Regions from separate parts of the Homo sapiens genome. Here region 1 is linked to region 2. The links come from fine-mapping of genetic effects on gene expression. A gene starts in region 2. The other region holds a variant in brackets. All regions are shown on one strand. Distances are from middle to middle. Region 1 overlaps PPP1R37 (protein phosphatase 1 regulatory subunit 37). Region 2 holds the start of CLPTM1 (CLPTM1 regulator of GABA type A receptor forward trafficking).

Region 1 (4,379 bases), 190 kb after region 2:
CCCCAGCCCCCTCCCTCGGCACCTCTCCTGTGGGCCCCGGCCTGGCGCCTAGTCAGTGAAGCACCGCTCGTTCCGAGGGTTCCAGGGTTGCCTGTCCTCGGGCTGTTGTACCCTCAGCTGTGCTGGAAGCAACCACGCTCCTTGTCCATCAGTGTTCACTGGAGTTAGGGTAGGTTCTCTGGAACATTCCAGAAGAGGGGCTTGTCAGGTCCCAGGAAGGGTGGCTGCTCAGTGTGGCAGCTGAGAGGGTGGGTCCTTGGACCCCATCGGCCTGGTTCAGACCAGCCCTGCAGCACCCACCCTGCAGGTGATGTGTGTAAGCTCAGAGCGCGGGTGCTGGCATCTGCGGGACGGTGGGTTCTGACTGGGTGCTGGGCCCCAGGCCCTGCCTTCACCAAGAAGCCTCCTGTGCCCAGCCTTGCCATCTTCCCAGGCTCATTTCCTGCCTCACAGCCTTTGCACAGACTCCCTCCTCTGCTGGGACATACCCAGAGATGCTGGGCCCACTCCCTCACTCGGTCCCGCTGGGGCAGAGGGCTTCGCCCAGGCCTGCCTGGCTGCAGTGCTGGCTGGTCCTCAGTTGTGTGGGTGCAGAGTTCTCTCGCTGTCTAAGGCCCTGTACCCCAGGTTCCAGCTGGTGGGTGGCCTCTGAGCCTCTGTTCAGTGCCTTCGCCCAAACCCCACCCCAGAACCCTGCCTGACCTCAGGCATAGCAGCCATTTGGGGCCTCGGCTGCCCCCCTGTTCAAGTGTCTTCCTGCCTTAACCCCACTCTACTTTCTCAGGAATTCACAGACCTCGGGCACCGCCTCGACTGTCTGGACCTGAAAGGTGTGTGTCTGGCTAGGGGTTGAGAGCCCTTGGGTCATGGGCAGGTCGGGGGCTCCCTAGAGCTGGGTCTGAGGACCTGCCTGGGGTTAGCGGCTTCTGGAGCTGAGCTCAGCCAGGGCAGGGGCTGGGCCTGGTGGGGGGTGGGAGGTTGGGGGCAGAGGGCCCTTCCAGCCATGCAAAGGTGCACTGTCTTAGACATGCGCACGGCTGCTGTCTCCCCCCAGGTGAGAAGCTTGACTACAAGACCTGTGAGGCCCTGGAAGAGGTCTTCAAGAGGCTGCAGTTCAAGGTCGTGGACCTGGAGCAGACAAACCTGGATGAAGATGTGAGCGGCCCTGCCACCGCCCACTTGGCTCCCTGAGCTCCCGGGCCCCTTCGAGGTTTGGGTGGGGAGAGGACACTGCAGGAGGAGGGGGTCCCCTAGACAAAGGCTGAGGGGTGGCGCAAGGGCGGGGCCTCTTGCAGGGCAAGAGGGAGACATCCAATATGACCAGAGTGGATGTGGAGGGCGCGTTGGGGCACCTATGGCCCACCCTCATAAGCAAGGAGAGCCTTAGGGAGCTGGGCTGAGGGGCAGGCGTGTGGCCCCCAGGAGCCCTTTCAGGAACCACGCTGGAGGGTCCAGCTCCTACAGGGTGGGCTTGGGAAGCATTCTGAGAGCAGCCTCCCATCAAGGCCCAAGGGCCCTCACCTCCTCAGCCTTGGGAGTCCCCAGGCACCCCAGGTGTCGGGATCCAGGGGCAGGGGACCTGGAGAACTGAGGCCCAGGCTCAGGAACACCAAGGCCTGTCCTGGTCACTCAGCACGTCAGTCAAGGACTTTGGAGGGCAAGTGACAGAAAACAAAACTGACTACAGCAGAGAAGGAAAGGGTTTGTCCCCGTGGCTCACGGGGCCCTGTCTGTGCTTGTCCTCCTCTCCCGTGTGGCTCTCTCCAGACCCTGGACCCATCGTCTCTCGGTGGGGCCCGGTGTCAGGGCCCACGCCTCTCCTCCAGGGCAGCCCAGAGCTGAGGCTGAGCCCCCGAATCTCTATGCGCAGGGTGCCTCGGCCCTCTTCGACATGATCGAGTACTACGAGTCGGCCACCCACCTCAACATCTCCTTCAACAAGCACATCGGCACCCGGGGCTGGCAGGCGGCCGCCCACATGATGCGCAAGGTGGGCGCCTCTCGGCTTCCAGGAAGAGGCAGCTCAGGCTCCCAGCACGGGGAGGCACTTTCTCAGGGCATGGCCCGTAGGCTCTGACTGCATGAGCTCTTGAGTGTGGGCTGTTGTGGGGATGCTGGGCCTGGCCCTCAGGCCAGGAGAACAGGGCCGAGAGGTGTCCTGGCCCCCAGGCCCCCTGGCCCCTTCTCTCCTTGCGAGGCATTTCATGACCTCCAACTT[C/A]TCCCTTCCGTAATGTCATCCTTCTGTAATGTCATCCCCTTGGAGGTGGCCATGGTCGCCATCCCCACGTCACTCCTGTGTGAAGGCTGGGTGGAGGGACGGGACGGGGCTATCTGGTAACCTCCCAGCCACACAGGAGTTGGAGATCCTGGCTGCCACCAGCCCTGCCTCGCTCACCCACAGGACCCCAGGCTGAGCCTTCCCTCCCCAGCCACAGTTACCCCCATTGTAAAACAAGGCGACATAGCCAGACGACAGCTGTGGCTTCGTTGCTCATTGAGACATGGGGGCACAGGTCCTGGGGCCAGGGAGTGCTGGGGCGGTCCTGGGGCCAGGGAGTGCTGGGGCAGGCCTGAGCCAGTGCCTCACCCCTGTCCTCTTGCCCCTGCAGACGAGCTGCCTGCAGTATCTGGACGCCCGCAACACGCCCCTGCTGGACCACTCGGCGCCCTTCGTGGCCCGTGCCCTGCGCATCCGCAGCAGCCTGGCAGTGCTGCACTTGGAGAACGCCAGCCTGTCGGGGCGGCCCCTCATGCTGCTCGGTGAGCCCCAAGCCCGGGAGGGTGAGCAGGATGTGCAGCCTGTTGGGGGGCAGGGGCCTGCCCAGTCACCGTGCCCCCTCCCCGTCCCCAGCCACGGCCCTGAAGATGAACATGAACCTGCGGGAGCTGTACCTGGCGGACAACAAGCTCAACGGCCTGCAGGACTCGGCCCAGCTGGGTAACCTGCTCAAGTTCAACTGCTCCCTGCAGATCCTGGACCTCCGGAACAACCACGTGCTAGACTCGGGTGGGTGCAGTGGCCCACCCCACCCACACCCGTCACCCAGCACCCACTCTGCCCGGCCCTGCGCTAGGTGGTGCTGGGGACACAGACATGGCCAAGACCACCCCAACGCTGTCCTGCTGGGGCTCCCAGGAGGAAGACAGACCCGCCCTAGACAGTGACAACCTAGAGTGGGCAGGACTGGGCTGGTGGAGCCCAGAGGCGGGGTCCGATCAGTCTGGGGGCCAGGGAGGGCTTCCAGGAGGAGGAGACAGCTCAGCTGACAGCCGCAGGATGAGGCGAAGTGAATAATTACAATCTGAAAAGAAAGCAGTGTTGCTGCCATAACAGGGTCAGCTAGAGGCTGCTTTCAGATGGGAGAGGAGGGAAGACCACCGTGGGGCGGGGCCTCTGGGCTTCCATCCGGAGGCTGGGAGCAGAACCAGCCTTGTGAGAAGCCTGGGAAAGGGTCCAGACCGCGGGAGCAGTGAGTGCAGTGGGAGGAGCTCTGGTGTTTGATGCTGGGGGTTGAGCAGAGAATGGGGAGCCGTCAAAGGAGGCGTTCCTGTTGCATCCTGGAGGGGTGGGGTGGGTCACTGTGTCCCCAGGTGGCAGGCCCAGACCCCACTCTACTGAGCACCTGCCAAGGGCCATGGCTGTCGGCCCCTGGGCTCAGCTCGGAGGGAGACACAGGGCTCTGCCCTTGGGAGTTTGTACTCCAGTCTAGAGAGACAACGATAAGATGAGTGAAATCTCCAGCCTGTCAGATGGTGGGATCTGCATTGGAGGGAGACAGTGGTGACTGTGGGTGGGAGTGAGCTGGCTGTGAGGTGAGGTGGGCCAGAGGTGGTCACATTTGAGCAAAGATCAGAAGCATCTGGTGGAGGCTGTCATCCAGGCACCCAGGCCCAGGGGTCACAGATGTGTGCCCAGGGGTGCCAGGCCGAGGCAGGGCTGCAGGGCAAGGCCTGGGACTGCGGGGCCTCCATGGAGGTCCTAAGCAGAGGGGGTTGCTCCTACCCTGCAGTCCCCTCCCCAGGAAGCACCCGGACCCCAGACAGGGCTCTGACTGCCGGCCTCCTCCAGGTCTGGCCTACATCTGCGAGGGCCTCAAGGAGCAGAGGAAGGGGCTGGTGACCCTGGTGCTGTGGAACAACCAGCTCACGCACACAGGCATGGCCTTCCTGGGCATGACACTGGTGAGTCAGGCTGGCAGGGAAGGGAGGCACCTCGGTCCCCGCTGCCACCTCCCACTCCAGCTCTCAGCACAGTTGCCTCTAGCTGACGGCTCCTGTCCTGCCCATCCTGCAGGTTCAAGACGATTTAAACTCAGCCCCACCTGCTTCCTCATTCAGCTTCTGTGCCTGTTTTCCCTGAGGAGGAGCCCTTCTTTCAT
Region 2 (4,379 bases):
AGGTGATCCGCCTGCCTCGGCCTCCCAAAGTGCTGGGATTACAGGCGTGAGCCACCGCGCCTGGCTGAGGAGCGAAGTTTTCTAAGGTTCCTTCTTGTCCTGTGTTAGCCCTCAGAGAGGTAAGTCACTCACCTTCTGCACCTAGAGAGCCTCATCCCCAGGGCAATCATCCCCAGGGCAGTGCTGGAGATACAGCAGTGACCACAACAGTCCCAGGTCAGCCTGCCCAGTTGGGGAGACACACCCATCCCTGACAGTGATGACACAAAGTGAGCAGGGATGGGGTGGAGGAGCTGAGGGGGCAAGGGAGGATAGGAAAAGGGCTCAGAGAGAGTTTCCTAGAGCGAGAGCTACTGTTACAGGGCTGAGACCTAGAGGAAAGTGGAGGAAACCGATAATAAAATGATAATTATATATTCAGAATATCCCAATGCAAAGCTTACTCTTTTTCCAGGTAATATATAAGGTTCATAATCACAGCGCTCCAAATATTGACCACTTAAGCATGAGGCCCAGGGCCTGATGTTTTCCATTCGCCATCTAACTACGTCTTCCCAATAACACAGCGGGGCAAAACGGGAAGACGAAGAACGAGTACGATTATATCCCTGGTTTATAAAAGGGGAGAAACTGAGGCTCAAACATAGATGTCACTTGTCACCAGCCTGGCCAACACGGTGAAACTCCGTCTCTACTTACAAAAAAAAAAAAAAAATGGGAGGCTGACGCAGGAGAATTGCTTGAATCCGGGAGGCAGAGGTTGCAGTGAGCCGAGATCGCGCCACTGCACTCCAGCCTGGGTGACAGAGCGAGACTCCGTCTCAAAAAAAAAAAAAAAATTAGCCAGGAGTGGTGGCGTGCTCCTGTAATCCCAGCTACTCGGGAGGCCGAGGATGCAGTGAGCCGAGGTTGCAGTGAGCCGAGATCGCGCCATTGCACTCCAGCCTGGGGGAGAGTGAGGCTCCGTCTAAAAAAGAAAAAAAAAGAGAGAGAGAGACGTCACTTGTCCAGGATATCTTATCCAGTCAGTAGCACCACAAGGGTTAGAACCCTGGCCAGACATCCACCCAATTTCACGGGTGAACAGTTAACAGCCTCTGAGAGTCTTGTCCTCTCTGGGCCTCCGTAACACCCTCTCCAAACTAAGGGTCTCTCAGCAGATGGCCGGGTTTAGAGCTGTACGAAGACACACAGCTAATGAAAAATTGTGGAATTCTCAGAGCCCGTGAAGCCTAGCCCACGGATGCGAGGTTTGGACCACTGAGGGAACGCGCATGCGTGCTAGGCAGGGCAGTCCGAAGGCTTGGGGGTGTATCATAGGGTCTCATCGGAGGTTTGTTGGCCGTAAGACCCCTGGAATTGGAACTCTAAAAACACAGAAAGGATATGAGCTCAGGAGACTTGAACGAAAGAGTTGTCTTAGGAAGAGGGGTCAGAAGACAAGGGTGCTGGGCAAAAGGCTAGTTCTTCGAATCAGAATACGGTGGCCAGAAAGGTTCCTCTGACGAAAGAGGGGCGTGGTTCGAAGCCGTACAGTGGCCGGTAAAGCTCAAGAAACATGGAACGAAAAGGACGCGAAGAATCGGCAGGGAGAAGCGGACAGGATGTCCCGAAAGGCTCATATAACCGAAAAGGCGGGTTAATGTGAAGGGACGGAAGGGACAGAACTTGCGGGAGGCACATGCTGGCCGAGAAAGTCCTGGAGTTCGGAGCATACAGTGTTTTTATTAGGTGGAAACAAACGGGCTGGGAGAAAGACGAGTACGGTGGCCAGGTTGGTCCTTCCATAGCCGGAAGTGGCCTTCCTGAGAGGCGTGGCTGCGGCACTCTTGCCGGATAGGGTGGCCCGGCGGGGCTAGGAAAGCGTGAAATCTCGCGCGATTGCGCTGCGAAGTCGGGGACGGGGCGGGGCTGGCGGCGGGGGCGGGGACCCGGAGCGGGAAGATGGCGGCGGCGCAGGAGGCGGACGGGGCCCGCAGCGCCGTGGTGGCGGCCGGGGGAGGCAGCTCCGGTCAGGTACGGAGGCCGAGAGGGGACTGAGGGGGTTCTTCCCCAGCCGGGGGGCCTCCCACGGGGCGTGTCCTACCTCTTGTCACGGAATCCCGTGCACTGGGGGCTCCTTGGCCAGAGGGACCTTGAATACCCGGCCCAGGCAGGGCCGGACCGCCCGGGAGGCCGGACGGTGCCGGGAACAGGGCCCTGTTGCGGGTCGGTTCCCCTGCACGCTCGAGCCGGGCGGCCACCAGGCTCATTGCTCGATCCGGGGAGACAGTGGCTCGGAGGGGCGCAGGCTTGTACCTTGGCGCGCTGGGTTCTCAACTCCGCGATTCCATGCTCTGAGGCCGTTCCTAGAGTGGTCTGGCGTTCAGGTCTCGTTGTAGTGTTTGAGGTGTGCGCAGTGATTAATTGGGAGTTTTCTAGCTGTGGGGAAGTCAGTATTAGCAGGGCACGGCCGACAGACCCATTTTACAGACGGGAATTCAAGGAACAGTGAGACTAAGGCGCTTCTAGAAGGTCATCCTGGTTAGGTTTGTAACTTTATGTAGAAGTTACAAGACACTGCTGACACAGGGACTGGTATGGTTGTGGTTTTAATGTAAAATAGTTCTATGGGTTAATTAGTCCTGGTGCGGATGACTTCTGCCCCACTGCTGTCTTAACACACTGCAGAGCATACCATTTCAGGCAGCTACCGTTCAGGCATTTGGGGAATAGATGGAGAGACATGAAGGTGCTGTCGACCCACCCACTGGGATGTCACTGACATGTGGGAGGCAGCTCAGGGGAAAGGAGTGCGGGTTGAGAGGGGAGAATGAAGCTGACTCTCTGTGTGACCTTGGGCAAGTTCCTTTCCCTCTTTAGGCCTTTATCTCTCCCGTGTTAAATGCAGAGGTTGGACAGGAGGGCCAGCCATATCCCTGCTGTCAGGGGACGAAGAGAGGAGACTGACATGTAAACAGTTGTAATCCTGAATGATTAGGTTGGTGACAAAAGTCTGTGTCAGGGACTGGGGGAGCCCAGAGAAAGAGCAAGTGGTATCACTTGGGTAGGACACATGGATGAAATTTGTGTGATAGAGCCCACTGTATCTGCTCTGAATCTTTTCAGCATTCTCAGCCAGGGCCTGGCTTCAGGGACAGCTTAGGAAATGTTTGTTGAGTTAGTGCTGGAATGAAGGCTCAGTTCCTGTCTTCAAGGGTTTCCCAGTCTTGCTGAAAGGAGGTCGTTTCCCCTCTGGGTTTCTGTTGATTATTGGGTTGATGGTGGCTTGAGAGACCAGGGCCCAGGTTGTTCTCATTGCCCTGAGCTTCCAGATGGCACTCTGATCTTCTCTTGTACCAACTCTGCTTAAAAACAATCAAGAGTTACCCCTTTGCCTTTAGGACAAAGTACAAATTCTTTAATAAATCACAGTCTTGCACGATCCGACACTTTTCTTCAGACTAGACTAGGATTTCTCGAGCTCGGCACTATCAACATTTTGAATTGGATAATGCTTTGTTTGGGGGGCTGCCCTGTGCATTTTAGGATGTTTAGCAGCATCCGTGGCCTCTACGCACTAGATGTCAGTAGGATCCACGCCCCTCCCCAGTTGTGACAACCATATATGTCTCCAGACATTGCCAAATGTTCCAAGAGCAGGGGGGCAAAGCCATCCCTGCGTGAGAACAACTGCGCTAAAGGGGATCCGCTGCTCTGAACCTATTTTATTTCTAAACCTCTTTTATTGCCTCTCAGTCTCTTTCCTCATAGTCTATGCACAGGTCTCTCCCCTCTTTAGCTAGTTGATGTGTATTAGTCCTACAGATTTCAGATGTCCCTTCCTGCAGAAAGCCCTCTTTGACTGTCTGGGCTCCGCTGTCCCAGCCCTGCCCTACTGGGTTTCACTGTCTGGGGACTGGGAACCCCAGGAGGGCAGAGCCAGGACTGCCTTGATCACCACTGCTTCCTTAGCACCACTCAGCTCAGCGCCAGGCACAGAGGAGGTGCTCAGTGTTTGTGGAATGAGCGGATCTTGAAACAGAGGCTGGGCTGAGGTGGAATTCCCTGATGCCGTGGTGGATCCAGGTAATCAGTGAAGACATGCCGCAAAACCTAGCTTCCTCCTGCTCTTGCCTAGCCCTGGTGGTCTCAGCTACTTCTTGGACCCTTTAGCAGATGTTGCTGGGGATTGTGTGTGTGCGTGGACGTGCAGATCCGAGAGCAGGAACTGTGTCTTAGTCACTGATGTGTCCACAGCCACTGCCACCCTTCTCCCATGCCCAGGGCCTAGTGCACAGCAGGCACACCCTCTGCACAGTCTGCTGCTTTAGCTAGCCTGCTCCTGTAGCCAGGAACTCGGACACAGAACCCACAGCTTTGCCATTCCTTCCTTCAGC

Evidence for each region.
Region 1: its variant is fine-mapped to the expression of CLPTM1 in whole blood (INTERVAL, PIP 0.91).

The regions. Positions count from the first base shown.
Region 1 is chr19:45,139,452-45,143,830 of GRCh38, forward strand. PPP1R37 (protein phosphatase 1 regulatory subunit 37) reads left to right here. Exons shown (of 13, transcript NM_019121.2): 3 at 785-830; 4 at 1,055-1,155; 5 at 1,871-1,990; 6 at 2,610-2,760; 7 at 2,852-3,007; 8 at 4,070-4,182. Among named protein-coding and RNA genes, the nearest start is that of NKPD1, 19 kb to the right of the region's middle. The variant C/A (reference allele first, on the strand shown) is at 2,219.
Region 2 is chr19:44,953,452-44,957,830 of GRCh38, forward strand. It overlaps CLPTM1 (CLPTM1 regulator of GABA type A receptor forward trafficking), which reads left to right and starts at 1,929. Exons shown (of 14, transcript NM_001294.4): 1 at 1,929-2,016. The coding sequence starts at 1,945. RefSeq lists a silencer at 1,852-2,181.